Linked DNA regions of Homo sapiens. The protein of the gene in region 7 purifies or fractionates together with the protein of the main gene of each other region. This does not show direct contact. Each region holds a gene or a part of one and is shown on either strand. Other genes may lie near its edges. The genes, in order: XRCC1, TMEM171, HLTF, KIF1A, TNKS2, AMOTL1 and RNF166.

Region 1 (4,309 bases), on a different chromosome or scaffold from region 7:
GCCCACCAGATAATCCAGGGCACTCTCCCCATCTCAAGATCCTTAATTTAATCAAACCCACAGAGCTCCTTTGGCCATTAAAATATTTCCAGGTTCTGGGGATGAGGACATGAACATCTTTTGAGCACCACTGTTCTGTCCACCACACTTGGCTAAGCATGGGCCGGGCATCACTGAAGCCTCAAAACCACTTTAAATAGAAGGGTCTGTTACGACTCCAGTTTCACAGATGGGGAAACTGAGGCTCAGACAGGTTTAATCAATAGCTTACATGGCACACAAGCTAATAACTAGCAGAGTACTTCGGACGCAACTGCCTGACTGCAAAGCACTGTCCAATACCACCACTGTTCTCAACTCCTTTCTTTCCATCCCTGAGTCAAACTCAACATCTTTACCTCTCCCACAATATTCAGCATAGCTCCTAAATGTGGTAGGATGGAGATGCTTGTATTTTAAATGAACAATTCCTACTGCATATATAACTATTTCTACTTTAAACAGGCACTCCCTGACATTTCTTCTTTGTATATAAAAAAAGTCCTGGCTAGGAGCACTGGCTCACGCCTGTAATCCCAGCACCGTGGGAGGTGGAGGCGGGAGAATCACTTGAGGCCAGGAGTTCGAGACCAGCCTGGCCAACATAGCAAAACCCTGTCTCTACCAAAAATAAAAAAAGTTAGCTGGGTGTGGTGACACGCACCTCAATAATCCCAGCTACTCAGGAGGCTAAGGCACAAGAATTACTTGAACCTGGGAGGTGGAGGTTGCAGTGAGTTGAGACGAGCCACTACACCCCAGCCTGGGTGATAAAGTGAGACTCTGTCTCAAGAGAGAAAACAACAGGCTGGGCACAGTGGCTCACACCTGTAATCTCAGCACTTTGGGAGGCCAAGGCAGGCAGATCACTTGAGGCCAGGAGTTCAAGACCAGCATGACCAATATGGTGAAACCCTGTCTCTACTAAAAATATAAAAATTAGCCAGACTTGGTGGCGTGCACCTGTAATCCCAGCTACACAGGAGGCTGAGGCCAGAGAATCACTTGAACCTGGGAGGCAGAAGTTGCAGCGAACCGAAATCATGCCACTGCACTCCAGCCTGGGTGACAGAGTGAGACTCCATCTAAAAAAAAAAAAAAGTGGCCAGGCACGGTGGCTCAGGCCTGTAATCCTAGCACTTCGGGAGGCAGAGGTTGGCAGATCACAAGGTCAGGAGAGTTCAAGACCAGGCTGGCCAAGAGGGTGAAACCCCGTCTCTAGTAAAAATACAAAAATTAACCAGGCATGGTGGCAGGCGCCTGTAATCCCAGCTACTCGGGAGGCTGAGGCAGAGAATTGCTTGAACCCAGGAGGCGGAGGTTGCAGTGAGCCAAGATCATGCCACTGCATTCCAGCCTGGGTGGCAGAGCAAGACTCTGTCTCAAAAAAAAAAAAAAAAAAAGTAAATAAATACTTTTTAAGAATCTGATAAAAATGTTTATACATGGAGGCTGGGGTGGTGGCTCACGCCTGTAATCCCAACACTTTGGGAGGCCAAGGCAGGTGGATTTCTTGAGCCCAGGAGTTCAAGACCAACCTGGGCAACACGGCGAAACCCCGTCTCTACTAAAAACAGAAAAATTAGTTGGGCATGGTGGCATGCGCCTGTAGTCCCAGCTACTCAGGAGACTGAGGCACGAGAATCACTTGAACCTGGGAAGCAGAGGTTGCAGTGAGCCGAGATTGCACCACTGCATTCCAGCCTGGGCAACAGAGCAAGACTCAATCTCAAAAAAAAAAAAAAAAAAAGGTTTATATATACATGGTAACAACCCAATAAATGTCCATCAGTTGATGAATAGATAAACATTGTACAGTATATTTATGGAATATCATCCAGTTATTTAAAAAACTGAAGTTGTGATATATGCTACAACATGGATGAACCTCAGAAACATTATGCAAAGTGTAACAAGGTTAAGTGTAAAAGACCACGTATACATTTATAAGTCCAGAATACGCAAATCCAGAGAAGCAGAAAGTAGATCAGTGGTTGCCAAGGGCAACATTGGGGAGAGAATAAGAAGTGACTGTTTAATGGTTATGTGGTTTCTTTTTGGAGTGATGAAAATATTCTGAATTAGAGAATGGAGATGGTTGAAGAACATTGTCAATATGCTAAAAAAAAAAAAAAAACCCTGAAATGTGCACTTTATTTATTTATTTATTTATGTTTTTTGTTGAGACGGAGTCTCACTCTGTTGCCCAGGCTGGAGTGCAGTGGTGCAATCTCAGCTCACTGCAAACTCTGCCTTCCAGTTCAAGTGATTCTCTTGCCTCAGCCTCCCGAATAGCTGGGACTACAGGCACGCACCACCACCCCCGGCTAATTTTTGTATTTTCAGTAGAGATGGGGTTTCACCATGTTGGCCAGCCTAGTCTCGAATCCCTGACCTCAAGCAATCCACCCGCCTTGGCCTCCCAAAGTGCTGGGATTACAGGTGTGAGCTACCGCATCTGGCTGAAATGTGCACTTTAAATGGTTAAAACAGTAAATTTTATGTGAATTTTTCTCAAAATAAGAGATGAGTGCTCAGTATGTATCAGCTGTGAGGATAAGAGCACAAGATGACTATCACCGATGGCCTGGGTTCGTGTGCATGCAGCTTTCTCAGGGAGACACAGTTCTGATATGAACTGTTCCTGAAACAAACATGGCACAGGAAGGCAAAGTTCCTGAGATATATTGCTAAAAAACTGTTTCACATCCATGAAATGCAATCTTTTCTTTTTTTTTTTTTTTTGAGACAGAGTCTTGCTCTGTCACCCAGGCTAGAGTACAGTGGCACGATCTCGGCTCTCTGCAACCTCCGCCTCCCGGGTTCAAACAATTCTCCTGCCTCAGCCTCCCAGGTAGCTGGGATTACAGGTGCCCACCACTGCACCTGGCTAATTTTTATATTTTTAGTAGAGACAGGGTTCCACCATCTTGGCCAGGCTGGTCTTGAACACCTGACCTCGTGATCCACCTGCCTCAGCCTCCCAAAGTGCTGGGATTACAGGCGTGAGCCACCGCGCCCGGCCATGAAATGCAATTGTATGCATCATTTAAAAGAATAAGGTAGGCTGCGCACGGCGTGGCTGACGCCTGTAATCCCAACACTTTGGGAGGCCAAGGCAGGAGGATCACTTGAGGTCAGGAATTCAAGACCAGCCTGGCTAACATGGGGAAACCCCATCTCTACCAAAAATACAAAAATTAGCCAAGCCTGGTGGCATGTGCCCGTAATCCCAGCTACTAGGGAGATTGAGGCAGGAGAATCACTTGAAGCTGGGAGGGGGAGGTTGCAGTGAGCCACGATCGCACTACTACACTCCAGCCTGAGTGACAGAGCGAGATTCTGTCTCAAAGTAAGTAAGTAAGTAAGTAAGTAAATAAATAAATAAATAAATAAGGTAGAACTTCATGCAGTGTGCATCTCCAAAATACACTGTTACTTGAAAAAAAACACACAAGGGAACAGTGTATATACTATGAATTTTTTAAAAAGGGATGGAGGCGGTAGGTATATATGCTTGTATGTGTACAGAATGACCCAGGAAGACCACCCAAAAAAACTGCTAATGGTGGTTGCATCAGGAGAGAAGAATGAGGGAGCAGGAGTTGGGGAGGGAGCAGGAGTTGGGGAGGGAGCAGGGAGGGATGGAAAGGGTGAGGGGAGATTTTCTTTTTAGTGTATACCCTTTTGCACCTTTTGAATTTTGCACTATATGCATATAATACCCATTCAGAAAGCAAATATAATAAAACCCCAATGGCCAGGTCTTTGTGGCTCTGTCTGTAATCCCTGTAATCCCAGCTACTCAGGAAGCTGCCTCCAAAAAGCTTAAAAAAAAAAAAAAAAATTAGTTGGGTGTGGTGGTGTGCACCTATAGTCCTAGCTACTCAGGAGGCCAAGTTGGGGGATCACCTGAGATCAACAGTTCAAGACCAGCCTTGGCAACATAGTGAGACTCCGTTTAAAAAAGAAAATCAAATATAAATAAATAAAACCATAATAGTTATCTCAATACAACAGAATACTATACAGAAATGACAATAGGCCAGGTGCAGTGGCTCATGTCTGTAATCCCAAGGATTTAAGAAGCTGAGGCAGGAGGAATGCTTGAGTCCAGGAGTTCAAGACCAGCCTAGACAACACAGTGAGACCCCCATCTCTGCAAAAAAAATACAAAAATTAGACTGGTGAACTGGCACATGCCTGTAGTCCCAACTACTGAGGAGGCTGAGGTGGGAGGATCGCTTGAGCCCGGGAGGTCGAGCCTGTA
Region 2 (4,932 bases), on a different chromosome or scaffold from region 7:
CATGGGCAACCACGAAGAAACACAATCCCACAAGCACAATCAAGGGCCCCATGATCTGCAGAGAAAGGAACCCACACATCCGGGGCTCTGAGTCGCCAGTGTCTGTCTCGTTTAGCGGTTCCTGCGCCCAGTTGGAGCCACATCCAGGGACCCAAATGCCCAGGACGCTGATGAGCATGCCGCTTGTCAAGAACAGAAACCCAAAGATAAGGCACTGGGCAAACTGGCGGCTCTCTCCACAGATGAAGGCTCGGTCGGGGTCCATCTGCTGACCTCTCTGCAGCCCTGCACGGAGCTGAAGTTGCGCCCGGGAGCGGGCCAGGATCACAGCCCCAAGCCCAACCACGGCACATGCAGGCCCCGCCACCTTGAGCACCATGGGGCAGTCTGGGAGGGGCTTATATTGGCATGCCTGGAACCCAAAGATGGAGAGCAGGACTCCCACACACAACAAGACGGCGCCGAAGACAAAGAAGCAGAAGATGAGTTTGCTGACGTGTCTGTCCTGCTGGTCCCCATCTGGCTCAGCAGCAGCTGCAGGAGACATGTCCAGGAGAGGCCCCTTCCCGGAGGCAGGGTGGGATGTGTTTTCTTCCCTCCAAGATTTCAGCAGCTCTGCAAACACAACCAAACACCAAATTAACGTGGGCACAGGTGTTCCAGAACCACCCTGGTTTTTTGCTGATCATTTCTGAAATCACACCACAATGAGGCCTTGGGGGTAGAACTTTATACAACTGATAAGCTGTAGAACAATGAGTTGGTTTATGAGTCAGATAAACTAGCATTCAGAAACTCCTAAATATGTAATTTTACAAGATATTCAAAACAGGAAATTAAATTACTACACATCTAAGGGTATCTTTTTTAAAAACTGAAAGAACAAAAGTAGCTGGGTGTGGCATTTCCTTTTCTGAGTCTTACAAACTCATTTCCCTGGGGAAAAAAGCACTGGTGAATGAGGGAAGAACCACAGGGATTCTTTCTGATTGCAAATGCCCCACTTTTCATCATAGCTGCTCTCAGCATTTTCAAGTCAGTTCAGTAACTAACTTTCCATTTCCTGTTTTAGACTACAGCAGCTTTCCATTTCATGTTTTATTCTAAGGCTACATCTACAAAAGACCCAATTTCAGCAATTTCAATAGAATAAGAAGTCTGTTCAGGAACACAGTGGGTTTGGTGGACTTTTAAGTTGATTCTATCAAAATGTGGTTCTTGAGGCCAGGCGTGGTGGCTTGCGCCTGTAATCCCAGCACTTTGGGAGGCAGAGGCAGGCAGATTGCTTGAGCTCAGGAGTTCGAGACCAGCCTGGGTGACATAGCAAAACCCCATCTCTGCTAAAAATACAAACTTTAGCCAGGCATGGTGCCTGTGGTCCCAGCTACTTGGTAGGCTGAGGTGGGAGGATTGCTTGAGCCCAGGAGCTGGAGGTTGCAGTGAGCCAAGATCACGCCACTACTCTCCAGCCTGGGCAACAGAGTGAGACCCTGCCAAAAACAAAACAAAACAAAACAAAATGGTTCTTGGGTTCTCAACAAGCACAGACTGGTGACCCAGTTGCTTGGATCTGGGATGACCCTGGAAAGTGTTGCACAGCAGGTCAACAGGAGCTCAATTTTCAGAGTGGACAGGTACCCAAAGGCTGGTGTGGCCTCTCACTCACCCTCCTCCATGGTGTCACCTACTTCCACAAAGAGGTTGAGACTCAGTTAAAAAACAAGCAGCCAATAAAACTGCTAGTTATAAAGCACAAAATGGGTGGAAGGGGGGAACTTGGCTTTGAAAGAATAGTATAAGTGGAATCAAGTGAGAAAGCACCTTCCAGAAAATCACCCAAGCCCTGTACTTCAGGGGTATAATATATTAAATATGCCAAGTGGTTGTTAAAGAGTTGTCTAGCTTACACAGAGCTGACCTAATTATCTCGTTATCTTATTTTACTCCAATGAATGGGATATTTTACCAGGACCCCGTAAGTCAGGTCCTGCAATTGCAAAGACAATCCAAAATCGTGAAGACTATTTTCACCTGCCCAAGGAAAGAAAACTTTTAAAATATTTTGTGCCGCTCACATCCATGGTCCCATGAAGGAACTCAAGACTGAGGCCCTAAGCCCAAGATGATCTTGACAAACCAAAATCACACTGAGGGAAGGTCAGTTTAGGTAAAGAAAGCAAACAGGCAATCTTACACTGGGAAAAACTTTTCCAGGAAAAAGTATGATAGAATCAGAAGGAAGTTGGAGAAAAAAAGGAAATATAGGAGGGAAAAAAGCTTTCATTTCAAACTTGGAAAAACTTGATATACAGATGCAGTTAAGCTGAGACAAAGCATTGCACTAATTTTTTAATCTTCCCATTTTTTATTAAGTCAGTAACATCCTGCAGTGAATAAGAATTTCATATTGAGTATACAGTAGTCCTCATTTATCCTACAGGGAGTACATTCCAAAACTCTCAGTGGAATGAAACGATGGAGAGTCCTGAAACCTATATATATTGGTTTTTTGTTATTGTTGTTGTTTTAATTTTTTTCCTGAATCATGCAATCTCTTTTGCGGTTTCGGAGACAAGAAAGAGAAGGGTGATTCTCGGCTGCAAAGTCCTATCAGGAATTCATTTATTCCCAGTATAGTCAACTTTGCAGTGAGTCACAAGGCTTCAACTGTCTTAAGGCAAATTCCCAAACACCAGTAAATAGAAGCCCAAAACTGAATCTGTAGTTTCTTGTCCGTGGACTAGTGGACGGAGCACCTGGCTGAGTGTTCACCTCTGATCCATAATAGTGTGGAAATACTCTCTCTCTCTCCTTCTCCCACAGATGCACTCACAAACGGATACAAAGACACCCACATTCACTCGCAATGAAACCTTTTCCAAACACCACCCTACACTTAAACTCCCCAAAGCCAAACTCCCCTCTCCAACACTCCTATTGGTTTTCCAAAAGACATTTCCAAAATTCACAGCACCTCTCCACGTCCAAAGCTATGGTGCGTTTGGGGAACGAAACGAGAGGCAAATGCCTTCTGTGCGAAATCGGTTTGCGGCTTTTAGGGAGCCCGAGCGCAAGCAACAGCCGGAGGGGCTCGCAGGGACGCAGGTTGGGCTCGGATACCCAGCGCCTCCGCGCTGCCGCGGCTCCCCGCGCCCAGCCTGGCCGCACAGCTCAGCGCCCGACCCGCCGCCGCCGGCGCAGGCGCGCGGGCCGGGGCAGCTTACCTGAAGCTGGGTCCGGCGCCTGGCTGACCGCGCTGCTGTGGGCACTGGCTGGGCGCGGCGTCCGCCTCCGCACGCGGCCTCGGCTGCGCCGGCCGCCCTGCACCCTACCCACCGCGCGTCCTGGTGCGGAGGGCGGACCCGGCAGTATTTAGAGAAGGAGGCGGTGCTGCGCGGGCGCGGCGGCCCGGGGAGGGCAGGGCAGGGCAGTGCAGGAGCGACCGGTGGGAGCTGGCCGCCACTGGGGGCCCGGGGCGCGCCCGCGAGGGAATGGAGAGCCAGGGGCGGCTTCGGAACCCAGGGCTGGCGGGTTTGGCAGCCTCCGCGCTCGTGGCCGTGCGCGCGAGGAATCTGGGAGAAATGGGCACCTTCCACGGCTGCCTGGCCCGCACACCTGGCGGGGCCGGCGAGTTGAGATGCCCCCGCCGGCTGGCGGAACTGTGCGCCCCGCCCGCCGAGGCCCGCTCCCCCTCGAGGCCTGAGGCCCAGTTCTATAGGGGCGCGAGAGAGCGGCGGCGTGGGGGGCGCGGAGGAAGCGCCGGCCCCCGCCTCCACCGCCTCCTTCGTGGTTGCGGCCCAGGCCGAACAGGGTACCGTGCCCCGGCCGCCTTGGCCTTGGCCACCGCGAGGTCCGGGGCGACTACACCCAGCAGCCCTGTGGCCCTCCTACTGCTCTGGAGACCTGGAGTGGGGTTACAGAGGGAAGCGACTCGCTGCGAGCTCCCCATCGAATATGGAGCCACCAGGTCACGGGACGACGTGCGCTCTACAGAATGTGAGACAAGGGCCCTCCACACCCAGCCATTCAGGCCTGAGGTCCTGGCTCCGAGACTGAGGCCGAGACGCGGCAAGCCCCGCGCCGGACCAGCTCTGCCCCTCCCGCACCCACGTGTCTGCGCACAGCCCTCCTTTGCGATAGAACCCCCTTCCTGGTTCTCCACCACTAATGATCTGCCGGAATTAAACTGGTAACTTTCCCTGCCCTTGAACCGGGAGTTTCGGGATGAGTTTGCCAATCCCTGTGCTATTTGTAACCAGCCCCGTGACACGTGATACGGATCCAACTGTGCTAGTTTCCACACCAGGGGTCAGGGCACGGTGGAAGGTGAGTCAAGGGTTCTCTGCCCAAGCGCAGAGGTGCCCTGAGCCACGGGGACTTCCCAGCCCTGCCTTCTCTTCTCAGCTTCCTGTCTGCCTTGCCTGAAACCCTATCTAGAGTTAAGGCCAATGGATGAAACTTTTCAATGTGCAAGCAAGCACTTTACCTACCTGATACAACAAGAGATTCCTGGTCATGCTCACTGAAGGTAAAGTATGAAGCAGGCTTAGCTAATCATCAGAGGTGAGAAGAGACTTAAAGAACCAGTCAGAGAGGTAAAGAGGGGAGGGGGTTACCTGGGCTTTAGGGTTCACCAGGGAGGCAGAACGGACAAGTTCTTGCCATTGGAATTTGGTGGGGCACTTGCCTGGGTGGCCAAAGGTGGACTTTTTCATAGCCAGGGTGCCCGACCTCTGTAAATCCCCGCCATAACTAACAGCCCTGATTACTGTCGAAATGAACAATGCCAACACTCACGACCCCTTGCTTTGTGGTTCTTTGCTACATCTCTCCAGCAGTTCAGAAAAGGTTGGAGGCAGCAGGGGACAGGAGACTGAGAAAAACAGTCATTTGTCAGTTGAGGAAACTGAGGTCCAGGCTGACAGAGGTAAA
Region 3 (4,309 bases), on a different chromosome or scaffold from region 7:
ATAGACAATAACTTTGTTATACTTTATCTGGGATTTCCATTCATTTTTTAATGCTACTGCTAAACACTGCACATAAGAAAAATATATTTTCTAGACACAAACTACAGAAATATTAATATATATTATTATGACTCCTTAATATTATTTTTCTAATCTATATTCATTAGGAAGTTAACAAATCCTTAATGTCTTAAAAAATAGTCAAATGTAAACTAGCAAATTCAAATTATCTAAAATTTTCAACATCATAACTTCTGAAAAATAGCCAACCCTTATTGAGCGCTTACTATGTGCCAAGCATTGGTCTAAGTACATTGCACAGACTGACTTTTTAAATCCTCACAGCTCTATTGGGAGGTACTATCATTATTCCCATTTTACAAATGAAGAAACTGAAGCACAGAAAAGTAACTTGCCCAAGGTCACAAAGCTAAAAGGTAGCAGAGCTAGGATCTGAACCCACACAGGGTGGTTCCTGAGCCTCAATTCTCCAGAATATAAAAGTCAGGGAATAAGGCATTTATAAGTCAGGATGGAACTAGGTAAGAAAAATATATCCAGCCTTCAACTCATGCCATTCTGATTCTACTTTATTAAAAACTGTATGATTTAACTTAAATATTATGATGTATATTTTTAAAAACTGAAGGAGGGTAACACAATAAAGAATGGTAGAATGAGGACTTTCAAAAATTCCTCAATAAAGGCAACAAAAAAACTAGATAAATTATTTGTCAGAATCAAATGTTTCAGAACACTGAGAACTAAATCAAAGGCTTGCAGAAATCTGGGTAACATTTATTCAAGAATAAAAAGAATAAACAGCTGAATATCAGTACTTCAGTCCCATCCCCAGCAATCCTGTAGCCTTTAAAAATAGCTCACGGCCAGGCACAGTAGCTCACGCCCCCAGCACTTTGGGAGGCCGAGGTGGGAAGATCACGAGGTCAAGAGATCAAGACCATCCTAGCCAACATGGTGAGACCCCCGTCTCTACTAAAAATACAAAAATTAGCTGGGTGTGGTGGCACGCGCCTGTAGTCCTAGCTACTCGGGAGGCTGAGGCAGGAGAACCACTTGAACCCGGCAGGCAGAGGTTGCAGTGAGCCAAGATAGTGCCCCTGCACTCCAGCCTGGTGACAGAGCGAGACTTCATCTCAAAATAAATAAATAAATAAATAAATAAATAAATAAATAAATAAATAAAAATAATAGCTTGTTGGGATCCTAGGTAAAGCCTGGCAGTCACCAGAAAAAAAGAGAATGGAGTTACAGTTCTTTCAGAGATTCATTCCCAAAGAACTGTTATTCTCCTGAAGTTCCCCGGAAGACCCCACTTGCAAGGCTGACTGTATTTAACCTCTGAGCTCACCAAGTACAAAAAAACCTCCCTTGGGCGGATGTTTGTCAAAACAATTTTACAGGAAAGTGTTTTAACTTCATGGCTACCTGAGGCAGTGGATAACAGCTGAAGCAAAAAAACAAAAAGGCTTATAAAGAAGAGCTAGGGAATGAGATGTCTGTGAGGGCTTTGAAAAGCTCCAGTGTATTTCTGGATATCTAGAAGGCCGTAAGCAAGCACAGGGCTGGTATGCATGACCAGGGCTGTGCACATTCTCAAGAAAGACCTGAGAAGGCCCTAAACGCTCACCTTTGCCTGAACTTGAGCATTTAAACAAGCCAGAAGTGAAAGCTAAAGCAGAGTTGTCAGGGGCCTTAGAGTGTTGAAGGAATGCCCTAACATACAGAAGTTCTCAGCAAAGAATGTACGATTTATTAGTTCCAGCACAATCATCAGCTGACCGCTAAGCTAACCAAGTACAGACTTCAGTGACCACACACGATAAAGGATAGACATCACAGAATTAATTCAGGAAAGTCACTAACAAACACACACTAATTACAAAACTCAGCAACAAACCACCCTAGAAGCCTAACAAACACACACTAATTACAAAACTCAGCAACAACAAACCACCCTGATTTCCAGAGCTGCCACATTATTTAAAATGTCAATTTTTCAAGAAAAAAAGTACAAGACATGCAAAAAAAATAAGAAAGTATGGTCTATACACAGGGAAAAAAAGCAATCAATGTCAACTGTCCCCAAGAAAGTATAGATGTTTGACATAGTAGAAAAAGAATTTAAGTCAGTTATTTTAAATATGTTCAAAGGGGCTGGGCATGGTGGCTCACACTTGTAATCCCAGCACTTTAGGAGGCTGAAGTGTGAGGATCTCTTGAGGCCAGGAATTTGAGACCAGCCTGGGAAACATAGCAAGACCCCATTTCTACAAAATAAAAATAGAAAAATTAGCCAGGTATGGTGGTACATGCCTGTAGTCCCAGCTATTCAGGAGTCTGAGGTGGGAGGACTGCTTGAATGCAGGAGTTCAAGGTTACAGTGAGCTATGATCACGCCACTGCACTCCAGCCTGGGTAATAGAGCAAGAACCTATCTCTAAAAAATTAAAAAGTTCAAAGACCTGGCCGGGCACAGTGGCTCACGCCTGTAATCCCAGCACTTTGGGAGGCCGAGGTGGGCGGATCACGAGGTCAGGAGATCGAGACCATCCTGGCTAACACAGTGAAACCCCGTCTCTACTAAAAATACAAAAAATTAGCCGGGCGAGGTGGCGGGTGCCTGTAGTCCCAGTTACTCGGGAAGCTGACACAGGAGAATGATGTGAACCTGGGAGGCAGAGCTTGCAGTGAGCCGAGATCGTGCCACTGCACTCCAGCCTGGGCGACAAAGCAAGACTCCGTCTCAAAAAAAAAAAAAAATAAGTTCAAAGACCTAAAGCAAATCATTTCTTTCGACATGAAAACGCATGTCTAAAAGCATGGAGACGATGTCTCACCAAACAGCAATTCTAGAGTCAAAAGGTACAATAACTGAAGAAAAAATTCACCAGAGAGACTCAACAGCAAATTTGAGCAGGCATAAGAAAAATCAGCGAAGCTGAAGATAGGTCAATTGAGATTATACAATCTAAGGAACAAAAAAATGACACACAACAGAGCCTCAGAAACTTGTAATATCAAGCATACCAACACACATACATAAGAGTACCATAAGGAGAAAAGAGAAAGGGGCAGAAAAAATATTTAAAGAAATAACAGCCAAAACCTTCCCAATTCGATGGAAACCACTACTCTACACATATAAGAAGCTCAACAACTCCAACTAAAATAAACTCAAAGAGATCCACACCTGGTCACATCATAATCAAACTGTCAAAAGAAGTTTGAGACCAGCCTGGGCAAAAGGGTAACGACAGTTTCTAAAAAAAAAAAAAAAAAAAAAAAAAAAAAAAAAAAAAAATTATTTAAAAAAATAAAAATTTTTAAGTATAATTTTTTGTAATTTTTGTCCTATCTCATTAAAAAGTATATAATTATAAATCTTTGTTGATAGGTATACTACATATATAAAGATATAACTTGGATAACAGCACAAAGGAAGGCAATAGGATGGAGCTGTGAGCAAAGGTTTTTTTGGGGTTTTCTTTGTTGTTGTTTTTTTGAGACAGAGTCTTGCTGTCACCAGGCTGGAGTACAGTCGCACAATCTCGGCTCACTGCAACCTCTGACTCCCTAGTTCATGCGATTCTCCTGCCTCAGCCTCCCAAGTAGCTGGGACTACAGGCAGGTGCCACCATGCCCAGCTAATTTTTGTATTTTTAGTAGAGATGGGGTTTCACCATGTTGGCCAGGATGGTCTCAATCTCCTAACCTCGTGATCCACTCACCTTGGCCTCCCAAAGCGCTGGGATTACAGGCGTGAGCCACCATGCCCCATGCCCAGCCACAAAGTTTTTTATATACTGTTAAGTTGGCACTAATCCAAACTAGGTTCTTATAAATTAAGTTGTTAATTGTAATCCCTAAAGCAATCATAAGTAACTCAAAATATATAGTAAAAGAAACAAGGGAATTAAAATAGTACACTAAAAAAAAAAATCTATTTAACATAAAAATGAGTATTGGAGGCCAGACCCAAATGCCACATATTGTATCATTTCATTTACGTGAAATGTCAAGAGGAGGTAAATCCATATACACAGGAAGAAGACTGATTCATGGTTGCCAGGGACTGAGGGGTAGAGATAATGGGAGTGACTACAAATGGGAATGAGGTTTCTTTTTGGAGTAATGAAAATGTTTTGGAACTAGATTGTAGGGATGGTTGCACAACCTTGTGAGTATTCTAAAAACTACTCAACTGTACACTTTAAAATGGTAAATTTTATAATAAATGTATCTCAATTTTAAAAAATTCCTTGAAAATATACAAGAAAGCTGCTTC
Region 4 (4,309 bases), on a different chromosome or scaffold from region 7:
ATGTTTTGGAAGAAAATAAAGAAGAGTTATATCTTCACGCTACCCCTAGGGAAGGAATTTTTTTTTTTTTTTTTTGAGACAGAGTCTCACTCTGTCGCCCAGGCTGGAGTGCGGTGGTGCAATCTTGGCTCGCTGCAACCTCTGCCACCAGGATTCAAGAGAAATACCTAATGTAAATGACGAGTTGATGGGTGCAGCAAATCAACATGGTACATGTATACCTTTGTAACAAACCTGCACGTTGTGCACATGTACCCTAGAACTTAAAGTATAATAAAAAAAAAAAAAAGAGTTTCTTGTGCCTCAGTCACCCAAGTAACTGGGGTTACAGGCATGTGCCATCACACCTATTTTTATTTTTATTTTTATTTTTTGTATTTTCAGTAGAGATAGGGTTTCGCCACATTGGCCAGGTTAGTCTCAAGCTCCTGGCCTCAAGTGATCCACCCACCTCGGCCTCCCAAAGCGCTGGAATTACAGGTGCGAGCCACCGCACCCAGCCGGAAAGATTTCTTAACCCACCGAAAACACCAAAATGAAAGTTTGGGTATCAAAAGATATCACTAAAACGGTGACGAGAACCCCACCCACCTGGAGAAGGTATCTGCAACACATACAATTCAACGAAGGATTTGTACGCAGAATACACAGAGGACAGATAAAAATAAAAATTTACAAAAATCACAGAAGAAAATGGGCAAAAAGATATGAACTGGCAATTTACATGAAAAGATACTCAACCACGATAGTAATTCGGAAACCATATTTTCAAACTGTATCCACCAGATGGCAACATTTAAAAGTAGGGCACACCAAACGCTGTCAGAAGGAGGCCACAGGAGCTTTTACAGCTCACCTTGGGAGTGAACGGGTGCCACCACTTTGAAAATAACATGGTAACATCTGGAGGGGCTGCAGACCTTGTGCCCCAGCAACTCTGCAAGTAGAGATGCTATACATATTCACAGGGAGAAATACACCCAAATGCAGAATGACTTATCATTACAAAAAGAATGGAGACAGCCCAAATGCCCAGCATCCAAGATGCAGATGAATGCAGAGTCGGCTGCAGGCCCCTCGAAGTTTCAAACACACAAGCAGCACTCCACAGACTCAGGGCAGACGATGACACTCCAGGAGCGATCAGCACCGAATTCATGGTGCTGGGCGTGGAGGGGGTCTAAGGGCCTGGACGCCACCAAGGCCACTCGATGTGCCCGCCATGGTGACGTGGAAGGACCTCCTTCCCGCCAGGCCCCATCTGTCCGTCTTCCTCCCCAGGGTGATGTGGGTCGGCCGAGATGCCGGGTGGTGGTGAGCCCTCTGCCAGTGCTACCCTTGGGGAGCAGGTTGGAAATGCCTTATTTTGAAAGCTAATGTGGGCATGTGGCCGTTGGTTGTAATATTCTGTATTCCTTGTTGTATATTTTTGCTACCACATGACACAATTTTTAAAGATGTAACTATTGGCCGCGTGCAGTGGCTCGTGCCTGTAATCCCAGCACTTTGGGAGGCCGAGGTGGGCAGATCACTTGAGGTCAGGAGTTAGTGGCCACCCTGGCTTGTAACATGTTGAAACCCTGTCTCTACTAAAAATACAAAAATTAGCTCAGCGTGGTGGCAGGCACCCATAATCCCAGCTACTTGGGAGGCTGAGGTAGGAGAATCACTTGAACCCGGGAAGCAGAGGTTGCAGTGAGTAGAGATTGCGCCACTGCACTCCAGCCTGGGCTACAGCGTGAGACTCCATCTCAAAAAAAAGAAAAGAAGAAAAGAAAAGAAAAGAAACTATCTTCAAGAAGTTGTTCTGTCAGCCAACCTGAGAGGGAGCCACGTGGCCCCAAGGGTGGCCAGAGCCTATGGGCGTGGCTGATGGCAGAAGGCAAAGCTGAGGATGGGGGTCTGACACAGCTGAACCCCTGAGAAGGCGGGGGGTTGCGGTCCACAGTGCCAGACACAGCACATGCCAGAGCCCAGGAGAAAGGGTGAGCTCCCCTCAAAGACAGAGAGGGGCACCTCTGGGACAGGTGGGGCAGGAAGTCATCAGAAACAAGAAGCATGAACTGGTCCTGTGGGGTGAGGTCACGCTGGCTGGAGTGGCCAGAGATGAGGGCACAGGCTCAAGGGTGGCAGGGAGGAAGCCAGAGGGGTTGGGATGACTGCTCAGAGCCAAAGAAGATGCCGAGAAGCTGGTGGTGGCAGGGTGGGGTCTGCGCTGGGGACATAGAGGCAACACCACGGGTGTCTGAGGCTCTGACTAGACCCAGGATGCACCCACAGGAAGTGGGCAGAGAAGATGGCCCGAGGGCAGGAGAGGGAAAGAGGGCTGGGGGATGGTGGCCATCCATGTGGGTATGTGGGTATGGCCAGCCGGCTGTGATGACTCCAGGAAAGGGAGACCATGAGCCCTGAGCCAGGGGCCCCAGGACAGAGGAGAGGGGAACAGAATCCATTCACTTGGTAAAAATGCATGCAGAAAACCCACTGGGCGCACCGGGCCACGCCCCGCAAGTCACTGCAGGCACAGAGGGCAGGGTGGCCCCGGAGGAACTCCCCTGTTGCTTTGGGGCTCTGGGACCATTTCAGGTTCCTGCCTCACCCTGGGGTGGGGGCATCAGCAGAAAAAGCCAAGTCCCTGTGGAAGGGGGCTGGGGGTGGCACCAAGGCAGATGACAAAGCGTGCCTCAGCTCGAGGAGTGTCCAGGAAAGACCAGGCATGGGGTGACGGTGAGGGCCAGACACAGGCCTGGCACAGGCACTCCCTGCCCAGCTGCTGGAGAGGCCCATGCTGCAGAGCATCGCACAGGCATCCGCCTGGAGCCCAGACGCCCTTCACCTCTGGGTCTGCCTTCACCTCAGGGGCCCGCCTTTACCTCGGGATCTGCCTTCACCTTGGGGATCCACCTTCACCTGGGGATCCACCTTCACCTCAGACATCTGCCTTCACCTCGGGATCCACATTCACCTCAGGGATCTGCCTTCACCTCAGGATCTGCCTTCACCTCGGGATCTGCCTTCACCTCTGGGTCCGCCTTCACCTCAAGATCCACCTTCACCTCAGGGATCAGCCTTCACCTCGAGATCCACCTTCACCTCAGGCAGGGATCAGCCTTCACCTCAGGGATCCGCCTTCACCTCGGGGATCCGCCTTCACCTTGGGATCTGCCTTCACCTCTGGGTCCGCCTTCACCTCAAGATCCACCTTCACCTCAGGGATCAGCCTTCACCTCGGGGATCTGCCTTCACCTCGGGGATCAGCCTTCACTCGGGGATCCGCCTTCACCTCGGGGATCCGCCTTCACCTCGGGGATCAGCCTTCACCTCGGGGATCCGCCTTCACCTCAAGGATCCACCTTCACCTCGGGGATCCGCCTTCACCTCGGGGATCCGCCTTCACCTCGGGGATCTGCCTTCACCTCAAGGATCCACTTGCTCCCAGTTAGACAAGTGGCCCGCCATGTGCACACCCAGCAGGGCCAGCCCAGAACAAAGCATCGGCATGGGCCACTTCCTGAAACACTGATCCTTCTTGAAGAGTTTGAGAAAAAAACCACAGCAGGTTTTTCTTAGAATTACAACCGATTGTCATAGAGGAGTGTCCTGGCCACCCCTGGAGAGTAAGGAGCCCCAGGTCCAATGACTGCAGGCACACTGGTTGCTCTGAGACCCCATGGGATAGGGCCAGAGCCCACCACACAGCCCCCAACTGCAAAGGGCGTGGGAGAGGCGTTTCCTGGGACCTCAGCCCTGAGTGCCGCTTGCAGAGGGCAGGGAAGGGGCAGGGGCTCAGGCATGGGAACTCAGGCACCTGGTGGAAGGCAGGGGTGAGAAGTGAGGCTAACATGGAAGCCCGCACCCCCAGCCCCGCCATCCACCCTCCGAGGGTGGTCACTGCCAGTGCCCCCAGGTGAGCAGCTGAATGGCTTTCTCCATAGCAGGAGTGAAGCCTTCAGTGAGCTGAAGAATGCAGTACCCCTCATTCTGATATGCAGGGGCAGCTTGGTAGCCAGCCCCACCCCTTCACCTAAGCCAGGGCCTGCCATGGACACCCCACCCCCCATGGACACCCCACCCCAGCTCTGGTCAGAACCACTCCGGGGTGAGCAGCAGCAGCCCTGCCGCTCCCGCCAATGGCCTCCCTAACACATGATGTGCCAACTAATGCCTTCCTCGGGCGTGAGAACAGAGTGTGAAAGGGAAGGACCAGAGCTGCCAGCAGAAAACAGGCCCTGCGGGAAGGACAGGCAAAGCATGGAACAGACGCGAAACAACCGAGCACAACCTCTGTCCACGCACCCGGGAGATTCAA
Region 5 (4,309 bases), on a different chromosome or scaffold from region 7:
AAGCAATTCCAGATTCACTCATAGGGTGAGTAATATGGGCTACATAGTTGAGAGATAATGTAAATATAAACCCCATTAATTCTCTCATTATCTTCTAATTATAAAACCTGGAAGCTTAGATAATCTGAAAAATTCATATAAAATTTGGCATACTCCACTTGTGTTCCAAGAAATGACTTTCGGATATTTGTAATTATTAGAGAGCTGTATAAAAAGCACTTCAAGATCAGGATTTGACTTCTTAAATAATGATCATAATTTACATCACAGAAACAACTCCAGAAATGCATTTACTCTGATTAACTCTTACTCAGGACAAGGAACATGATTTTCTAGCACTTTATGTACAAGTTACTGCAAAGGGCCAGTTAATTTACAGACTGAATAAAACGTAAAATAAAGGTGAACTGGTACAGACAGTGATGGGGAATGTCCTCATTAAGTGAGTAAAGATCTTTCCTCGACTTTGAAGGGAGCTAGAGTCAACAAATAAAAGAGATTGCCAAGCCATAATGGATGTATGTCTCTGTAACAAGATGCTTAAGCATGCTTCCTGGAAAAGAGTTTTATATTAGAAAATAGGAATGGCATTTTATGGGACAGCATTTCCTTCTATAGCTGCCAAACTGAGCACAGGCGTGGTCACCATATGGTGCACAAACTGACAGCATATTTCCAATTGGGCATAACATCATGGAGAGAAAACCCAGGAGCAAGAAGCACCTGTTTCACTGCACTTGCCCATTCAGGAGGCCTGGAGGGGACTGAGACAACTACATTTTATAGTTCTGGGTTAAGTTTACCCATGATGTATAGATTGGCTATAAATACAGCAATAAAACCAAGTAAAAAGAACAGGAAAAAATATACTTAGGATAAAAAACTACCCAGTCCTGTTTGTGATTTTTTTTTTCCCCTTTAGATTTAAGGTAATTAGAATAGATTGGGAAATGATTTAGGATTACCCTTCCCACCCTGGAAATGTAACATCCTACTTATGTTCCATGAAAAGAACACAATAATTGTTCAACAGCAAGATTTAGTTTCTCTAAAAAACAGGAGCACTTTGCTCTAATTTTCACAGAAGGACTGCAGAAAATTTTCCAACATGAAAGCTAGAAATTGAGGCCAGTAAAGAAGCTTCTTTAGTAATCAGGACCTATCATAGTTAGAGCTCTTTGGAATGTGTCTCATACATACAAAGGTATCACAAATTAAATCTTCAGCATATTCATAAGTTCTTAAATGAGAAAGATTTCTAATGACAGATAAAGGCTCCCATCGGCAAATTAAATCTGATAACTCAATCTTTCCCAACTAACAACTGAACATAGCCTCTGGAATCAAATGTAAAGATCACTCAATCATGACGATGTAAGATGAAGTATAGATGAACAATACATATGAAAAAATTTTGTAAACCGCTGCAGTTCTAAAACAGATTTATATTACAAAGCAATGTAAATAAATACTGGGCTAGTACAAAAGCTCTTATTTACAGTTTTACAAATGAAATTGTATTCAGTGTAAATGCTGTGTTTTAAAGAACACAGTATTGTATTAGTAAAATTAGTTCTGTTGAGGGCATTACAGTTTGTTAGAATCAATGCATAACATATAAAAGGTTCAAGTTAACTCTGTTTATAATTTAGTACAGACAACCCAGTTTAACCTGGAATGGCATCTGTTAAAGTGCTGAAAAAACAGGAAATATTTAGAAAACACTGTACATTATTAAAGCTTTATCAAGTCAGAATGTTAAACTTCGTTCACATTTTTATCCTTTTGCCACAGGCCTGTGGGCAAGATGATTTTTTTTCAGCAAAGGAGTAAAACGTAGAGGCCACTGCTGCTTTGATGATTTTAGGTTCAGTGGAATTAGTTTCTTAAAATAACTATTTATCCATCGACCATACCTTCAGGCCTCATAATCTGGTAAGTAATTAAATACTCAGGATAAGCCTGGAAGAGAAAGATAAATTCAAATAATGGTACAAAAATTTTCTTGAAAGATAAACAGACTTTCCGGAAGTATTCCTAATCTTAGGGAGGAGGTTCTAAATTACTGTTGTAGATCAGAATCATCTAGGGACATTTTCTCAAAACATCTTTACCCTGAGTACAGTTCTTCAGATTTTCAATCAGCAAGTCTAAGATGAATACTAAGTTCATAAGTATCAGATAAGACTAAAATCATGTCTGATTTTAGTAACTGCGGTGATTCCGATACCTACTCCCAGTTCACAACACTGCTCTAGAACTACTTTTGGCTCTCACTGAGAGCAAAACACAGTTATATACTTCTTTGCTATGGACAGGCTGTTAAATACAAGATTTCAATTATTTATAAGAGCTAAGAAAAATCCGGAACGACTGGCGAAATTTGAATAAAATCTTCTTGTTTTTAGGAAATTTACAATTGAAATAGTTAATGGTAAAGGGACATGCCCTGCAACTTACTCTCAAACAGTTCACAAAAAAATAGGTACACACACAAGGAAAGAAGGAGAGAATGGTAAGAGTAAAAAAGAGAACAAAATATTAACATTTAGGAAATCTAGGTAAAGGTTATAAGAAAATTCTCTTTACTATTTTTGTAACTTTCCAAATCTGAAATTATCTCCAAATAAAATTTTTAAAAAATCCAGTTAAGGCAATATGTCTTGTCAATTCAAGAGATTAATAAAAAGTTAAAGTATGCCTCCCTAGCATTTTTGAAGATGAACAAATAAAACTACATTACCTGTTCTCCTCTGTAAATAACATATTCAGCTAATGCTAGGCCATTTACACTGGGCCTACCAGTGACTGAGTGATGACCTGGAGGAGAATGTGCCATTTTCATTGCACTGAACTGCAGGAAAGACTTTCCCAAGGTTACCCGGCAAAAGAGCAGCTGCCTATAAAACGAAAAGGAAAAGATCACCCTGAAGTCAAATTTGATACATAAATATGACAATGTGTGGACACGGCATAAGTTTTAAAAAATTATTTATACATAAATACTTATAATTGTTTTTATCATTTCACCCCTAAAAGAACTTTTTAAGAATGTCTTCTATTACTCTTATTAATGAAATAATTTGTCAATTTAGTTAGTCCTTATTTTAACTATAAAATCTGAAAAATGTAATAACCTTATAGAGATACAGACTCTACCACCTTGTTTGTATCTCAGCAAAAAACAAAAGTCACTGGCCAAGTGGGAAGGAGAAGGTTTAGTGGACTTCCATTAAGTGGCTTGCAAAGTTGGACACATATCTAATTAACTCCAGTTGATTTTACCTTCAAAATATATTTGAAATCCATTTACTTTTCTTAATTCTACTGTCACTATTAAGTCAAATCACTGAAATATTCACCTGGACTATCACACAATGGCTTTCTAAACCAGTCTTCCTGTTTCTTCTGTAATTCCTGTCCAAACCTTTCCCATCCAACTAATTAAAACAAACAAAAATTAGATCAAGTCACTTTTCTGCTTAAAACCTTTTAGAGGCTGTCACTGTACTTGGGAGAAAATCCAAATTCTGTACAATGGCTCCAATTTCTTGAATCTCATTTTATGTTCATTATGCCCCATGCACATTAGTTTTCTTTTCTTCACAAAGGCCAAACTTGCTTTATTAATGGTCCCCATCCACAGAATTTTCTCCACCATTGGAATGTTATCTATTTTACCACTCTTCCACTGGCTGATACCCACTCAATTTTCAGACTTCAGCTGAAATGTTACTTCCTTAGATAGGAAGTAAACTGGTAGTCTCCCCTCACCACCAGTTTCAGTAGATTACCCTCTCACTCCTCTCAGGCATGTGACTAGCCTTTCTTAGTTTCAAACAACCTTTTAGTATTAACGTCATTGTTTCTTTTTAGAAGATAACAGGAGATTTCTGTAGACCAGTTGATGGTTCTATCTTCCAAAGAAGAGGGAGGTATTAGAATGCTGCTTATTACTAATAATCAGAACTATTTAGCCTTCAGACCATATATGACAAATAAAAACAGCAGTGTTCAATTTACAGGAAATTACATGCCTCCTAACCACTCCAATTTATGATCTAAAATAGAAGTGAGTGGGACGTCATACATAGGAGGGCCTACTGTGTACTACCTATGCAGGCCTAAATTTAGAGGGGTAACAGTAAGAACAAAACAAACACAAAGAAAGAACCTGTTTCCCTCCATGACTGCAATTCTTCAGCTCGGAAGCCCTTTGAAATCAACTGGGAAGCTTTTAAAAATTCTAATATCCAGATCATGCCCCAGACCAATTAAAAGAGATTCTGTGAGGGTGGGACACAGGCAT
Region 6 (4,309 bases), on a different chromosome or scaffold from region 7:
AAGGAGCAAGCGAGAGAAAAGAGTCATTTTGCCATTTTATCCATTTATTATGTACAATATTAAGGCACAAGTTTAAGCAGCAAAGGAGAGGAAAATCTTTGGCTGACCAACAGCATCAATATTTGCTGTGGGGGACAGGCAGTGTTCTTGGAATCCCCACACTGGTACACAGACCCATTTGGCTGTATGGCCATGTACATCACCCCTCAATACAGACTGGCAATATGAAGACGTCAAACGTTACAGCCAGATACCAGTCTGCTGGGAAGAGCCGGCACGAGCACGGCACACTGCCACCAAGCACAGCGACACACACACACAGAGCAGGTTGGAGGGCAGCGGCAGCAGGACAGCTGAAATCGGGTGCCCATGCTTACCACTGTTTCACAGAATTTTACACAATTCTGTAAGTGCTCATGGAGGAGGAGGCTCCCTGTTCCTCCTCAAAAGGAAAAAAAACAAAAAACAAAAAAACACCTTGATTCAAATAAAACCAATGTGGATATATTTGCTTACATTCCGTTTTGTAATAAATACTTACAGGTGTCTCTATGTGAACAGACTCCTAGGCACAATCACATGTAAACACAACACCGGGCATCCAGACTTTGGGGGCTGATACAAGAAAACGCTGTATATGTAGTTCAATATAGAGAGAGCAGTATTCTAATTCTGTGAAGAAGCAAAGTTTCATGACAAAGAAACACCCCAGTCACATCATAACATGACAATAACATGCACTAAAGTAAACACAGTTTTACAGAATACCTACCAGATGTTTATATGAATGATTATGCACTTATATCTGTAGTGTATGCAGAGATGTGAACACATAGGAGGCATGGCAAGAGAATTGATTTTTAAAAATCTGTGTGCTAATGAGGATGATCCCCCCTTGAAGTGGACACTTTGAGAGGCTCTGAGGCCAAAGACTCATTCCAAGAAATTTCTTAGGGATTTTTTTAGAAACAAAAATGGTGTAACTTACCTTAATTGCCATCTTTTTTCATCCAACTGTGCTATCAAGCACTTGAGATTATTTCCAGAACTTAAATCCATCCTCAAAGGAGGAGGATTTCTCATCTCTAAGGGTAAACCAAAGGAACATGCCAAGCCCTGAAGGCCATTCTAGTAGAAGAGTTCCCAAGATATTTTTACTTGGCAGCACTATAGTCAATGAGCACATAGTCTCCCAAAAGACACCTTTTAAGGAGGGCGGGGTGAGATGAACACTTTGATCTTCTGTATGTTAGGAAAAGAAATTCCCACAAACAACCCTATAGTCATACCTCATATGTATGCACTCACTTATACACATGTCTTTATATACCATTAAATTACTAAGTGAGAAAAGGGTATACTACTTAAGAGAAAGAGGAAAAATTGCTCATTTGTTCCAGGAGAAATTCACTACTGAAATGCTAACTTTTGCATTTCCCCAGCCGACCAATTTCTGGTAACTTCTTAATTACTTTGCCTATCTCCCATGGAGCCACACGTCAGAGGCAAACTCATTAAACAATCGTCACATCTAATGAAGACATTTTAAACACTTTAATTACTTAAACAACAAGAAAAGAAACATTTATAAAGCATATACCAAGGCTGTCTCAGGTTTTAGGATGTGGAGAAGCCAATGGTAGGCTGGATACTCTCTGGCTACTTAAAGCCTTACCCATTTAAGAACATTTGTGGGATCCCACTGACTATGGTCATGGTACTCCTTTGCTTAAGAGGAGTGCAAGATCATTCAGAGAACACAGAGAAGCATGCTCCACTTACTCCAGCGTGGACACTGGTTTTGAACCCTGGTTTTGAAAAACACATCTCTTTGCTCAGCATAACTCCCTGCAGTCAAAACATGAGCCCCCTGCCTCAAAAGCTTTTAATGCCCCAATCTATTATCCACTGCTTCTGAGGTCCGCAGCCTCACCTGAAGTCTGTGTCCCTAAGTCTCTGGGACTCAGGTCAATGGGGAGGAAGAATTTCCCATTCTCTCAGCACCTGGCATGAAGGTGCTACAGCCACTGCATCATGAGGGTGCGCACCCAGGTGAGAACAAACAAGAGTAATGACTGGCTGCTCTGCACGGGGCATTCTGAACACCTCCTTCCTGAGTAACAGAAGCACTGAATTCTCTGTTCCAGGTTCAGAACTAATTTGTTGCAACTGTTTTGGTATCCATGCCAAGCCTTGTGGAGTCAAACTCATACATGAGTTCCAAAGAGCAACCCCAGAGGACTGCACCCAGAAGGGCTCCACCACTGCCTGCTCTCCCAACGAAAGCCTGAGGAGGGCCAAGGCAGCCCCTGCCCTGCGTGCATGGTTAGAACATGCTGAACTCTGCAGTGTCACTGGCTGCCAGCCTCTGGGAGGCAGAGAAAATGCTGAGAAGAAAACGCTAAGAAAGGGTTCTGCACATGCTCTGAAAGTTTTGGAAGATAATGTGTTTTTCCTGGCAGCTTAGCTATATGGACCTGCAGACAGTAATAGTTCTCATGTACAGAGGCATCTAATTAGTGAAACTCTAGCTTCAGAGACCTGACTCCAACTTCTCCAGTTCCATATAATATCCTGGCAGCACACAGAAACTGCCAGACAACGCAGTCAAGGGTGAAGCAGAACAATGCTGGAATACCTTCCCGTGAAGCCAGGGCCTCTCCCCTTCATCCTGAGATAGGACCCTCAAGTTCTATAATCAGGCTCCACTGGGAAAGTTTGAAGTCCAGGTCTCTGGGAAGTGCAGAAATATTTTTTAGGTATAGTTTGGAGCTGTGCTTCTGGTGGAACACAATAATTTCCATCTATGCCTAGCATTTATAGGTGATTCTAGGAGTTCTGGGCTTAGTCCTATTTCTTAGGCTCTGAGATGTGTGATAGCTGTGTGTGTGTGTGTGTGTGTGTGTGTGTGTGTGTGTAGTTACACGTGCACACACACATCACAGACAGGCATAGAGACTGCCAAGATGCAGTGCCGCATGTTAGAGGCTGTACAGCCAGGGTCTATGCCCAGTGCCTCTCCAAACTTTGTTTTAAATCATCCTAGCTTCTCCTGGCTGTGAGATTTCAGGAAGGGACTTAACCTTTCTGAGCCCATTTCCTCATCAGTGAAATCAGAATAATAAACGCACCCCCTGTACTCCAGGTGGGTGGAGGACTAATTAAAAGGTATTTACCACACTGTTTGCATACAGTTGACACTAGAAAATATAGTTGCATTATTTTTCTGAAAATCTGTTTAAGATATTGTAAGCTGCCCAGAACTCAGAGCAGGTACTCAGTATATGGCCGGACTTCAGGAAAGCTCTAATGATGAAAGAATTTAGTGCCCTGGCTTGGCAGGAAATTTCCCATAGAAGAAGACATTTTAAAGCTATAGATCCTGTTCTTAAGGAAGAGTCTCAGTAGGTTAAGAGAAAAAAAATACGGTCAAAGTCCAAAATACAATGCCGTTGAAGCCCTGAAACATGGCGATGTGTCTGTTTACAATGAAAACACTTGGCAGCTCAGGGGGACCTCGAAGAGCAAGCAAGTCTGACACCTGATTGGGGCAATCAGGTGTCTGGGGCATGAAGACGAGGCTTCGGGAGAAACAGCTGGGTCTCTCACTCTAACCTATGTCTAAGGGAGGCAGCCCAAGTTTGGGGTGGCCCAGACCTGATGGTAGGGGCTGGCAGAGTTGATTTACCTTCCTATCTCTAGACATTTTCCTTTCTGGTCCATCCCCAACATAAACTGGGGTCAAAATGTCCTTAAGAGAGTTAGCTGTCATCTCCTAACTCATCTCCTATGAAATGTGGTGGGAACAGAGATTAGGAAGGGATGTCTATGCCCTCTCCCCACCCATGTCCATCCTCAACCCTTTCCCCCATGGATGAGGCCTCCTGTGCCCTCTTCCCACACCCTATGGCATGGGGTGAGCTCCATGCTCAGCCTCTCAGAGCTCCTCAGTTTTCCTGTCTGCACAACAGGTACTCCGATGCTCAGTGTGAGACTAGAGGAGGTGATGAGCAGGTGGCACAATGTGCAGTGCCTATGGCCAAGCAGAGCCCCAGAGGGCCAGTTCCCACTCCTCTGTCGTACTGGGTGGCACAGAGGCTGGCCAAAGCCACTGATTTCTTCCCTTCCCTCTCCAGCTTACACCTCTTGTCTTCCTTCTGTCACCTCAATTTGGGGAGGCTATAACTTCACCGGGGTTACACACCCAAGACCAGTCCATTTTAGGATCCAAGCAAAGTTTCCTGAGTAGCACTCTCTTGAGTGTTTCATTTAGAAGGTACTTGGAAGAGGTACCCCCCTTTCTTTCTTC
Region 7 (4,309 bases):
TGGGCCCGGCCTGCGCCCTCCTCCTGCTCCCCACAGCTGAGCTGTCCCTACCCCAGGGGGCCTGGTGGGTATGCCAGGGAGGGCAGCACAGGAGCCTTCCTGCAGGGTGGCAAGGAAGGTCCACTTCCCCAGAGTGGACCCGGCCCCGGGTGACTCCCCCAGCCTCTCTGGGATGGGGCACTGCGCTTGCTCCCAGAACGAGGAAACCGCCGAGGACAGTTCCTCTCCCTTGCCCGGCAGCGTGCCTACCTGGGGATAGGCTGTGATGTGGGCACCACGGGGACGAACTTGGGGCAGTTGGCCATCTGCTCCTGGACCTTCAGGCAGGACGAAATGTGCACTCTCATCTTTGCCAGGGTCACCTAGGAGACAGGGCAGGGAGGGCAAGGCGGTCCTGAGAATCTGGAAGGGCCGTCCTGGGGAGGCCGAGACCTCAGGTGTCCAGGACCAGAGAACTGTAAGCAAGCGTCTGTGTTGCCAGCAGCAGGGGGACCCGGTCCCTTCTGCTGCTAAAACAATCTCAGGCACTGAGCAGCCACTACTCCATGGCCAAAAGCAAGTCACTGCAGGACAATCTGGCCGAGGGCAGAAACCTGGCTGGAGAAGGGTAGCGGGAAACAGGTAAGGAGATCTCTGGCGCCTGCAGGAGTTCAAATACTTGCTCCAGAAAAAGGAAGAGGCCAAGTGGAGGCCACTCAGAAATGCCCCAGGCTGGGGACAGACGCTTCGTGTGACTGAGGGGCAAGCTGGGGATGCTTCCGTGGAGGCAGGGCGCCATCCTCCACCCACAGCACACCCACTGTCCAGGGCAACAGGCTGCAAGATCGCAGGTGTCTGAGGCCCTCCTGGACTCAAGCTCGGCACCCAGCTCTGCCTAAGGGCTGCTGGACTCCGAGGGATGCACCACATTCCAGCAAGGTGCCGGGAGACACAGCCGCATCTGAAGACCCAGATTAGAGAACGGAGCTGCTGTGGGATACGGGAGGCCGCTCTGCATGTGACCGGTTCTGATCCTTTCTGGCTGCCCAGGAGAGAAGAACTCTGAGCAGGGAGAGACGGGAGGTGCCCAAGCACCCAAGACCACAGCCTGCTCAGCCGCACCACTCTGGAGTCCAGGGCAGCCCCTGGACATCTGGACCTTCGACCTCGAGGACAAACCACCGAGGGGCCACGTACTAGTGTGAGCGCTTCATAGAACTTATTCACCTGAGATGTGGCAACGTCGGGAAACGCAAATGCAAAATCACCTCTAGCTGCTCAGTCCTCCGGAAGCCACTGAAAGAACGGGGCGCTGGCTGGGGCCTCTCCACCCTGAAGCGGATGTGCCAGGGAGGGCCACGGGGCACGGGCCAGGCACCAGGACAGGATGGACATGGGGGCCAATGAGGCCCATGACAAGCTGCAGGCCCTTACGCTGCTCTGATGTGGGTGTGGCAGTGCCCATCAGCCCGGCTCTGGCCCTCCTGGCAGCTGGAGGGTGCTCGGCCCTTAGATGTCCTTGACTGTGCCCGCGGCCCTTGTGACCTTGGAGCCCCCAGCGCCGTCCCCGGTATCGGCTGGCAGGGGAAGGCTGCATTGGGAAGGTTTCAGCTCAGCCCCCTGGTCCTTACCCTGGCCACAACCCACGTGGGTTCCCCTGGCCCGGGCTAGGCGGCTCTGACAGTGCTACCCCCACCGGGCTGGCCCCCCCGTCAGCCGTCACCACAGGAAGTGAGAGATGAAGACGGGAGGGGAGGGAGGCGCCGGGGCTGGCTTCCTGGTGCAGGAGCAGAGACCGCGATTACTCAACAGGAAAGAGAGAGGGCCCCGGCCCCCACCCTCTGCAGAACCCGTGGGCTGAGGCTGCCCATCAAGTGACCCCGGCTCCAGGGCGGCCCAAGCAGGCGGGTACCTTTTTGTTGCAGCCTCGACAGGGCGCTTTGTAGGATGAGAGCTGCTTCTCCACGTGGGTGGCCTTGTCCACCTTCTTGGGGTCGAAGGGCAGGCGGCAGAGTGGGCACAGCGGGGATGGCACCTGCAGGCAGGGCTGGAGACACTCCCCGCAGAACCTGCAGGGCACAGGGGCCTGAGTGCCAGCCCGCCCCTCGGGTCTCCCGAACCGCAGGCCTTGCTCGGGGCCCTTCTTAGGACCCAGCATTTGTGGGGTCCACAGGGGCAGCTCCCCCTACCGCTGTCGCCGTCTCTGGAGATGGTCACTCCTATGTCCGGGGCCCACCAGCTGGATGGGCCCCATCTGGCTAAAGGGTGGCCCCGGTCCCTCCTGACAGTAGGCCCCTGTGGTTTCTGGCTAGCGGCAGAGCCGTCACTATGGCTGTCCCCGCGAGTGGGCCAGAGGAGCTCCCATAGGCAGGAGGCCCCAGCTCGGGCTACCAGGTTCACGTTCACGTGGCGACAACACCTGGGTGGGCTGTGGGGCGCAGGGACAGCCCGGGGACTCTGGAAACTCTCCCGGCTCCACACTCTGGGGGATAAAACCTCAAACAATCGTGGGAAAGGAAACGGCCAGGCCCCAGGGGCTCCAGATGCACTGGACAGGGAAGGGCCAAAGCTAGCCAAGTGGCAGCACATCCTGAGGCTGGGTGGCAGTCACCAGGCTTGGGACAGCTTCGCAGGCAGGAGGGGGTCCTGCTCCATCTGGGCGGAGGCTCGGGTCCTGGGCACCCATGGGCCCTGGCTCTTGGCACTGCCCCTGGGGACACCACATCGTGAGGACAGACTGAGCGTCCCACAGCCCCGTGCGCACTCCGGGCTCCAGCAGCAGGGGCTTCCTTGGGCTCGCACACCCTCCCGCTCTGCAGACGCACACAGCCCTTGGAGGGGTGCACCACCAGCCAGTGGGAGCACCAGGCGCGAGAGCCCCCAGTGCAAACACAGAGAAGGAGCTTAATACTGGGGCAGCCACATCTGGCCTTGTGAGGAGCACTGTGGGGACAGCTGAGCTGCGGCGAGGAGCTGGAACTGAGGCAGAGCCCCCCAGTCCCAGGAAGGCTACAGCACCCGGGGGTGTAGCTTCCCTTCTCCCTGGCAAGGCCACAGGGCTGGTACAGGAGCCCCACTGGACAGAGGGGCTGTGGGCAGGCCCTGGGTTCACAAACGACTCAGCTGAATTCAGGGCCAGAGTCCTCTTTGCTGTCAAGAGATTTCCACATCCCTCAAGAAAAGGCCCTTTCTGCAAGGAGGAAGTCTGAGGGCCTCAGGCAAAGGTGGCCAAGCAGGCATCTTAAGTCCCTCCTGCTGTCCCCCAGGCCCTCTTTGCCACCACTGGATTCCCACAGAGCCACCACCTGGCTGGTGGCTCCCACATGAAACTTCGTGTGAGAGAAAGCGGGACTCAGCTTGAGACCCGTCAGAAAGTGAACAAGCCTTTTTCTGCAGAGTAAAGAGGTCGCTCACTTTACCCACCTCACCCGAGTTCTCACCAGGCGCCCCAGCAGATATTTCCAGGGTCATCCCTGGCACTGACCCCTGGATTTGAGCCGGGGGGGCCGCCTACTTCACCCGTTCACGGGAGGAAGGTGCTGGCAAGATGGTCCACCTGGGGAGGCCTCAGGGGACCCCCATACTCAGGCACTCATGGCAGGAGAAGCGGAAGCAGCTCAGGTGCCCGTCGGTAAACGGATGAAGAGACGGCGTGGCGTGCACACCCATGGAAAGGGCGTTCGGCCGGGAAGAGGCGTGCAGCCCCACCACGCACCGGAAGGCCTGGAAAACAGTGCAGGGCAGACAGCAAGCACGTCCCACCCGTGTCGTGGGGGTCCACTCACGCTCAACGTCCAGCAGAGAGAAACCCAGTGACCAGAAAGCAGACGGGTGGGTGCCAGGCGAGGGGGAGAGTCCTGGGTTTCTTTCTGGAGTGGGAAGAATCTTCTAGAATTGCATCGATTGTTGCATAATTGCAAACACACTGGAAACGACTGGATGGTGCACCTCCTGAGTGAACCCTGAGCTGCCAGAGACCAGGCCGGGGCTCGGCTGCACAGCACGGCCACGGGCTGAGGGGAAGGAAAAGGGTCCCAGGCAGAGCTTGGGAAGAGAGGAAAGGTGCCCAGAAGGTTGGCTGGGAGGAAGACAGCCTCGTCCTCCCCGGAAGGACTCAGGAAAGACACAAGAGGGAACCCAGCCCGACTGGCAGGGCGGCTGGGCCCGAGGAGCAGGAGGCAGAACGAGGCACCCACAGGGTGGGTGCTCTATCGGCCTAGTTTCCAGTGACTGCCAGCCTGGTGTTCAGAGAGCCAGCAGCCGGGAGTAGTGCCCGCTTCCCCCACAGGAAGTTCCTGTCTGCGCCCACCCAGGGGCTGGTGCTGAGCAG

Evidence for each region.
Region 1: the proteins of RNF166 (region 7) and XRCC1 purify together in Homo sapiens (affinity purification with mass spectrometry; 2 studies listed by BioGRID and IntAct, with this or other methods). This does not show direct contact.
Region 2: the proteins of RNF166 (region 7) and TMEM171 purify together in Homo sapiens (co-immunoprecipitation; one large-scale study listed by IntAct). This does not show direct contact.
Region 3: the proteins of RNF166 (region 7) and HLTF purify together in Homo sapiens (affinity purification with mass spectrometry; 2 studies listed by BioGRID and IntAct, with this or other methods). This does not show direct contact.
Region 4: the proteins of RNF166 (region 7) and KIF1A purify together in Homo sapiens (affinity purification with mass spectrometry; 3 studies listed by BioGRID and IntAct, with this or other methods). This does not show direct contact.
Region 5: the proteins of RNF166 (region 7) and TNKS2 purify together in Homo sapiens (affinity purification with mass spectrometry; 3 studies listed by BioGRID and IntAct, with this or other methods). This does not show direct contact.
Region 6: the proteins of RNF166 (region 7) and AMOTL1 purify together in Homo sapiens (affinity purification with mass spectrometry; 3 studies listed by BioGRID and IntAct, with this or other methods). This does not show direct contact.

What each region holds. Positions count from the first base shown.
Region 1 is NC_000019.10:43,565,109-43,569,417, forward strand, and holds part of XRCC1 (DNA repair protein XRCC1), read right to left. Parts: intron 1-4,309. UniProt on the Homo sapiens protein: Scaffold protein involved in DNA single-strand break repair by mediating the assembly of DNA break repair protein complexes. Negatively regulates ADP-ribosyltransferase activity of PARP1 during base-excision repair in order to prevent excessive PARP1 activity.
Region 2 is NC_000005.10:73,118,989-73,123,920, reverse strand, and holds the start of TMEM171 (transmembrane protein 171), read right to left. Parts: upstream 3,347-4,932; 5' UTR 3,225-3,346; intron 616-3,224; 5' UTR 548-615; coding exon 1-547. Other genes in the region: uncharacterized protein LOC124901001, read left to right, coding at 3,492-4,193.
Region 3 is NC_000003.12:149,076,088-149,080,396, forward strand, and holds part of HLTF (helicase-like transcription factor), read right to left. Parts: intron 1-4,309. UniProt on the Homo sapiens protein: Has both helicase and E3 ubiquitin ligase activities. Possesses intrinsic ATP-dependent nucleosome-remodeling activity; This activity may be required for transcriptional activation or repression of specific target promoters.
Region 4 is NC_000002.12:240,809,612-240,813,920, forward strand, and holds part of KIF1A (kinesin-like protein KIF1A), read right to left. Parts: intron 1-4,309.
Region 5 is NC_000010.11:91,860,590-91,864,898, reverse strand, and holds part of TNKS2 (poly [ADP-ribose] polymerase tankyrase-2), read right to left. Parts: intron 2,901-4,309; coding exon 2,744-2,900; intron 1,963-2,743; coding exon 1,900-1,962; 3' UTR 1-1,899. UniProt on the Homo sapiens protein: Poly-ADP-ribosyltransferase involved in various processes such as Wnt signaling pathway, telomere length and vesicle trafficking.
Region 6 is NC_000011.10:94,872,386-94,876,694, reverse strand, and holds part of AMOTL1 (angiomotin-like protein 1), read right to left. Parts: 3' UTR 1-4,309. UniProt on the Homo sapiens protein: Inhibits the Wnt/beta-catenin signaling pathway, probably by recruiting CTNNB1 to recycling endosomes and hence preventing its translocation to the nucleus.
Region 7 is NC_000016.10:88,699,371-88,703,679, forward strand, and holds part of RNF166 (E3 ubiquitin-protein ligase RNF166), read right to left. Parts: intron 4,212-4,309; exon of another isoform or gene 3,420-4,211; intron 2,049-3,419; coding exon 1,892-2,048; intron 1,581-1,891; exon of another isoform or gene 1,571-1,580; coding exon of another isoform or gene 1,250-1,570; exon of another isoform or gene 364-1,249; intron 363-363; coding exon 250-362; intron 1-249. UniProt on the Homo sapiens protein: E3 ubiquitin-protein ligase that promotes the ubiquitination of different substrates. In turn, participates in different biological processes including interferon production or autophagy.